Linked DNA regions of Homo sapiens. The protein of the gene in region 2 purifies or fractionates together with the protein of the main gene of each other region. This does not show direct contact. Each region holds a gene or a part of one and is shown on either strand. Other genes may lie near its edges. The genes, in order: NADK and SERPINA10.

Region 1 (4,031 bases), on a different chromosome or scaffold from region 2:
ATCGTAAAGACTCTCTTTCTCACTGTAATGGCCATCTTCTCTGTGTCCCCACATGGCTTTACTTTTGTGCCCAGTGAGGGTGGGAACAGAGGTGAGGAGAGAGCTCTCTGGTGTTCTGTTTTGTTTTTGAGACAGGGTCTCTATTGCCTAGGCTGGAGTGCAACAGCACAATCACAGTTCACTGCAAAACCTCAAACTCCTGGGCTCATTGATCCTCTTGCCGGAGCCTCCAAGTACCTGGGACTGCAGGCATGCACCACTGTGTCCAACTGTTTTTGTTTTGGTTTTGTTTTTGTTTTTGTTTTGTAGAGACAGAATCCTGCTATGTTGCCCAGGCTGTTCCTGAACTCCTGGCCTCAAGTGATCCTCTTACCTCAGCCTCCCAAAGCCCTGGGATTACATGAGTGAGCCACCGTGCCTAGCCTGGTGTCTCTTCTTACAAGGATGCTCATTCTGTCTGATCAGACCCCACACTTATGACCTCATTTTTTCTTTTTTTTTTTTTTTTGAGACGGAGTTTTGCTCTTGTGGCCCAGGCTGGAGTGCAGTGGCACAATCTCGGCTCACTGCAACCTCTGCCTCCTGGGTTCAAGCATTTCTCCTGCCTCAGCGTCCCAAGTAGCTAGGATTACAGGCGCCCGCCACCACGCCCGGCTAATTTTTGTATTTTTTAGGGACAGAGTTTCACTATGTTGGTCAGGCTGGTCTTGAGCTCCTGACCTCAGATGATCTGCCCGCCTCAGCCTCCCACAGTGTTAGGATTACAGATGTGTGCCACCGCGCCCATTTAACTCCTTTCTTAGAGGCCCACCTCCATATTCAGCCACACTGGAAGTTAGGGCTTCAATGTAGGAATTTGGGGGGATTGCTGGGTGGAGTGGCTCACACCTATAGTCCAAGCACTTTGGGAAGCCAAGGCAGGAGGATCACCTGAGCCCAGGAGTTTGAGACCAGCCTAGGCAACACAGAGAGACCTTGTCTCTACAAAATAAAAATAAAAAATAAATTTGGGGAGGACACATTCAGTCCATAATGTCACATTTATCCTTTTTAATGCCAGAATCTACCTTGTCCTCATTAAGATTTATCTTCTTTAATGAGAAGGTATGTTTGGCTTTATTTTGTGTGTTTAGCCTCTGTTGAGTGATTTTTATTGTTTCTGTGCACGGCCCCTCTTCTGTTCTTCTGAAGCTTGTTTTATTCTATTTCTGGCTTTATTGGCTTGAATGCTCAGTTCATGGTTTCCCATGGGCTGTGACCCAGCTTTGATGGGATTGAACCGACCCTGGCAGCCTGTTTATGTCACCTCCAGCTTCTGGGTGTTCCAGATGTTGGGTCTGATCTTCACTTTGATCCCTGGGTTGCTTAAGAGAAAGTTCAGAAACTTCCAAGTGGCTGAGGGCTTTTCTTTGTTTCTATCTCTTCCTGGTTTTATTGTATTGTGGTCAGAAGATGAGGTTCTAGGCTGGGCGTGGTGGCTTACGCCTGTAATCCCAGCACTTCGGGATGCTGAGGCGGGCAGATCATTTGAGGTCAAGAGTTGGAGACCAGCCTGGCCAACATGGTGAAACCCCATCTCTACTAAAAATTCAAAAAAATTAGCTGAGCGTGGTGGCGCACGCCTGTAGTCCCAGCTGCTAGGGAGGCTGAAGCAGGAAAATCACTTGAACCCGGGAAGCAGACGTTGCAGTGAGCTGCGATCACACCACTGCACTCCAGCGTGGGCGACAGAGTGAGACTCTGTCTCAAAAAAAAAAAGATGAGGTTCTAGGCCAGGCATGGTGGCTCATGCCTATAATCCTAGCACTGTGTTGGGAGGCTGAGTTGGGAGGATCACTTGAGGCCAGGAATTGAAGACCAGCCTGGGCAACAGAGCAAGACACCCTGTCTCTACCAAAGGAAAAAAAATTAGCTGGACGTGGTGCTGTACTCCTGTAGTCCCAGCTACTTGGAAGGCTGAGGTGGGATCCTGTCTCAAAAAAAAAAAAAGAAAAAGAAAAAGGGGAAAAAAGGGTGAGGTTTTCTATCCTCACCAGTTTTCTTTGAGGCTTAATATTGGTCAGTTTGGTAAATATTTCATTGGCGCTGAATTCACGATGCAAGGCATGGAGTTCACAACATATCTGCTGGTTCAATTTTATTTGACAGCTTTTCTGGACTAGGGTATTTGAAATTGCACACTTTCTCTCTCATTAATGTGTTGTATTGTTTACGAGAAAAGAGCCTGTCTTTTTTTTTTTTTTTTTTTTTTTTTTTTTTTTTTTTTTTTGAGACGGAGTTTCTTTCGTTCTTGTTGCCCAGGCTGGAGTGCAGTGGCACAATCTCAGCTCACCACAACCTCCGCTTCCCGGGTTCAAGCGATTCTCCTGCCTCAACCTCCCAAGTAGCTGGGATTACAGACATGCGCAACCACGCCCAGCTAATTTTGTAATTTTAATAGAGATGGGGGTTTCTCCATGTTGGTCAGGCTGGTCTCAAACTCCCGACCTCAGGTGAGCCACCGCACCTGGCCAGAGTCTTTCTTTTCTTAAGACAGGGTCTCGCTCATGGGCTACCATGCCCGGCTAATTTTTTTTTTGCTAGAGAAGAGTTCTTTGTTGCCCAGAGTGGTCTTGAACCCCTGGCCTCAACTGATCCTTTCTCTCCAGCCTCCCAAAGTGCTGGGATTACAGGCATGAGCCACCACACCTGGCCACACAGTGTGACTTTCTATTTTGTTCTTTTTTGAAACAATTTTTTTTGTTAATATTATTTTACAGAAAAAATTTTGAGATGAAGTTTCACTCTAGTCACCCAGGCTGGAGTGCAATGGCATGATCTCGACTTACTGCAGCCTCCACCTCCTGGGTTCAAGCGATTCTCCTGCCTCAGTCTACCGAGTAGCTAGGACTACAGGCGCCCACCACAGCTAATTTTTGTATTTTTAGTAGAGACGGGATTTCACCATATTGGTCAGGCGAGGCTGGTTTCGAACTCCTGGCCTCAAGTGATCTGCCCGCCTCTACCTCCCAAAGTGCTGGGATGACAGGCGTGAGCCACGGCACCCAGCCAAAAACCTAGAGTAGTTCTTAAATATCTTTGCAATGGAAACAGTCTGTTTTCAAAGTACTTTGGTAAATTGGACTTCAGCCATTTTTTCCCCTTGATGAAATGGAACATATGTATGTGTAAATTATTATTGTTTCATACATATTTATTTACTTTATTTACATTATTTATTTTATTAAATTAAGGCATCAGTGTTTTTCTGACCGAAGTTCTCATTTCCTGACAATGGAAATGGAACAAGAAAAAATGACCATGAATAAGGAATTGAGTCCAGACGCGGCTGCTTACTGCTGCTCGGCCTGCCACGGCGATGAGACCTGGAGTTACAACCACCCCATCCGGGGCCGGGCCAAGTCTCGCAGCCTGTCTGCCTCGCCCGCCCTGGGGAGCACCAAGGAGTTCAGGTACAACTGGGAGGGATGGTTCCTCTTTTTTTTCTCGTCTGATTTCATAATATTCTTTCTTAAAACGATTATGAAGAATTCTCCTGAGTAGTCTGCGTCGATGCATCCGGAAGGTGAGGCTGGGTCCTTGCCCAGGTGAAGCTGTGCCCTTGAAGGGGGATCCTGGCCCATGGACACCTGCCTGGCGCACGTTCCCAGGTGCCAGCACAGGCACAGGGTGCCACCGTGTTTCTCTATCTGTCTGTATCAGCACAGAACCATCTAACTGGCGCCTACGCTGACCCTTGATGTTAGACTGAAGCGCACTTGGAGAGGAAACTTTTTTTTGAGACTGAGTCTCGCTCTGTCCCCCAAGCTGGAGTGCAGTGGCGCAATCTTGGCTCACTGCAACCTCCGCCTCCCAGGTTCAAGTGATTCTCCTGCCTCATCCTCCCAAGAAGCTGGGATTACAGGCGTGCACCACCATGCCCGGCTAATTTTTGTATTTTTGTAGAGACGGGGTTTCACCATGTTGGCCAGGCTGGTCTTGAACCCCTGACGTCAGGTGATCTGCCCGTCTCAGCCTCCCAAAGTGCTGGG
Region 2 (3,309 bases):
GCCAAAGGACAATCAGGTAAATGGAATTGTTACTGCTCATTTTGTCAGTAGTTAAAATTCAATAGGTATGAGAAATTTGACAGTACTGGTTAATCAGTATACTCGCTGTGGATTTCATTTAACTGTTTTCATTATGTCTCCTACTAGCACCAATAATGTGGAACTGAATATATTAAGATCTGGAGAATGTGGTACAGAACGAGACATCAAAATTGCATCAGTTTTTTTGGTGCTTTGATTCATAACATTCTATTAATTTAATAAAATGGAGAATTTCAATGTATTTGTTATAATAAATTTAGCAGAATTATAAGGTTTCACTTTCCCATGATGCAAATGGGAAAAGGGGACACTGATTTGACAGAGAGAAACAACTACTGCTTATAAAGTTCAGGAATGTAGAGCAGTCAATTGCAGTCTTAGTCCTAGTTAGTACTAAGTTATCAAAACTGTTCATCAAAATTACTTTTGGAAGTTTTTTAACAGAACATGACATTTCCTAAAATCTTTGAAATATTTATTAAAATTATACTCTCAAGGACAGATATATAGAAACAGGATAAACAGCAAATTACTGACAGTTATGAATAACTACATGTATCTCCATTTATATCAAAAACAAGATGGATACTTTTGTGAAAGTTCTCAGTTTAACAACTTATCAAATTAATCCTTTAAGCTAGTTGTATGGCAAAGAAAAATCTCCCTCCATCTGTAGTTGTAGGGAAAAGGGACATCTTCATCATCATTTTGTTAATTACTAAAACTTGCATTTTTAAGAACAAGTCCAGGAATTTCACTAGTTAGCCTTACAAGCTAACTGTAGAGCTCACTTTTACTGCAGAAATGGAGATAGGTCTATAAAGGATTTTACTTAATAGAGGTTAAATAAGGAGCACATAAAGTTTTTCTTTATAACCTCTTACACATTTAAAAAATCATTTCTATTATTTGACTTCCTGAGCTTGAATATCTTAGTCTGGAGATGAGTCAGTTTTGCCATACAATTAGTGGATATATGAGAAATCTTTGAATTGAAATGAAACAGGCTCTTCAGCTGGAGTGGAAGTTTTACAATGAAGATAGAATGAATTAGATTAAGTCAGTAACCTGTTCTCAGTTGTTACAGCATATATATGTGAGAACGTGTGGTTGAGTGTGTCTGTGTAGGAACAATTTTTAAGACTCGACACTTGGCCGGGCGTGGTGGCTCATGCCTGTAATCCCAGCACTTTGGGAGGCCGAGGCGGGCAGATCACAAGGTCAGGAGATCAAGACCATCCTGACTAACACAGTGAAACCCCATCTCTACTTAAAATACAAAAAATTAGCCGGTCGTGGTGGCAGGTGCCTGTAGTCCCAGCTACTCGGGAGGCTGAGGCAGGAGAATGGCACGAACCCGGGAGGTGGAGGTTGCAGTGAGCTGAGATCGCACCACTGCACTCCAGCCTGGGTGACAGAGCAAGACTCTGTCTCAAAACAAAAACAAAAACAAAAACAAAAACTCGACACATATATAGTGAAGACTTCTACAATGTTAAGATTTCCCCCGCTCGGTTGGAAACCCTGAATTTGTGTGTATGTATTTGTGTAAGGTAAGTTACATTTTTTATTGGTCTGCGTTTTTCTGTCATGCCTGTGTACTTGGGAAATCTGAAACTGAGTGTCTTAGGAACTTCTTAAAGCAAATGTGAGGGAACATTAAAAAGTATATTTAAAATATAGAATAGGTCCATTTTCTACCTTAAAGAGTAGTATATTAAATACAATTATTATGCTGTTGTTGCTTTGCAGTGTATGTGGTGGGAAGAAGGCAGGAGTTTTTTATCTGCATGCTATATGAATCCTTCAATAATAATGTACCTTTTTATTACTGGGTTTGGCCATATTGATTTCAGTGAGTATTGTGCTCTCACAGACTTATTTTTCCAGATTTCATCTCTTAAAAGTGGGAAATTGGACTGGATGCTACTTTATTCCTCTTTCTACTATTTTTCCACAAACAAATCTGACTAATTGAACACAAACAAGGTGACTTAAGAATGTCAGATAGAGTTAGTCCTCTGTCTTTGGCCCTCTAGGGCCTAGAATTGCCTGTCCCTTCATAAGTGTCAATTAGTACTCTTGGAATGAATACAGGAATGAATTTTATTTTATTAATATGCAGTCTAAATACTGACTTTTCATCAGTCCAGGTTATGGAATGATGAAAAGTCAGTATTTAGACTGCATATTAATATTATTACCTATTCACATTACTCTGAATTATATTAAACAACTAATCAATAAATGAATTTTAGGTTTTTTTAAACATTAGATAGCAGACAGACAGAAATCCAATTAGGCATTTAGTTAACATAGTTCACACTGTAAATCAGCTCTATTCAGGATTCTCTGAATATAGTCTTTTCTGTTTCTGTGACAGAAAATAACTGCCTAAGGAAGATCAGGGATATTTACGATTTTCCTTTTCACCCTGGGACAAAGTTCATGCTTATATTCTGTTTAACCCCCATGGGTAGCTGTAGTGCATGCTGTTTACCTGGTCCCCATCAGATGTTTTAGATGGAAGGAAGAGTAAAAAGGGCTTGGAGACTAGACTCAGGAAAGGTAGGCTTCTGACTCTGCCATTGCCACACTGGAAGACCTTGGACAAGTATTTTGTTCCCACTGGTATATAAGGTATGACTTATCCACTAGATGCAGAAGACACAGTGCCCAAGGCTGACAGTACTGTAAGGGCCCATGAAGGTGTTTTGCTTATTGCCATATGCTAGACATATAACTTTGAAGCTAGATATGCAACTTTGAAAGACGAATATATTCATCTTTCTACCAATGCAGCCATAGAACATATATATCTTCATGAAGGAAGGAGGAGTCTACAAGGTTAAACGTGCCTAGGGCCCATGAAAGTAAGAATATGGACCTGTTTCTGGGTCCCTCTTTCTTTCCTTTGTAAAATGAAGGTATTGAACTAGATGATCTGTGATTCAGCCAATGCCTCTGCCAAGCGATTTGATGCACCATGGAAGCAGATGCTGTGATCAGGACTGGTTAGAGCTATTTTCTTCTGATGTCAGTCAGCAAGAAATGACTCCGTAATAGATTAAAATAAAACACTTATTTTGCACCAGAGAGAAGGAAAGAGAGAGAAGCACATGACTCAAGGAGAATGTTTACATGTGTTCCTCCCAAAGGCTTTATCTTGACATAGTGTTCTCATCTGCAACTTTTTAAAAATGAAAATATGTGAGCAACAGAGAAAAGATATTCTACCCAGCTAGTCTTTAGCCAAGTAACTAAGGT

What was found.
Region 1: the proteins of SERPINA10 (region 2) and NADK purify together in Homo sapiens (affinity purification with mass spectrometry; one large-scale study listed by BioGRID and IntAct). This does not show direct contact.

The regions. Positions count from the first base shown.
Region 1 is NC_000001.11:1,764,649-1,768,679, reverse strand, and holds part of NADK (NAD kinase), read left to right. Parts: intron 1-3,233; 5' UTR 3,234-3,273; coding exon 3,274-3,452; intron 3,453-4,031.
Region 2 is NC_000014.9:94,279,960-94,283,268, forward strand, and holds the end of SERPINA10 (protein Z-dependent protease inhibitor precursor), read right to left. Parts: 3' UTR 501-3,309; downstream 1-500. UniProt on the Homo sapiens protein: Inhibits activity of the coagulation protease factor Xa in the presence of PROZ, calcium and phospholipids. Also inhibits factor XIa in the absence of cofactors.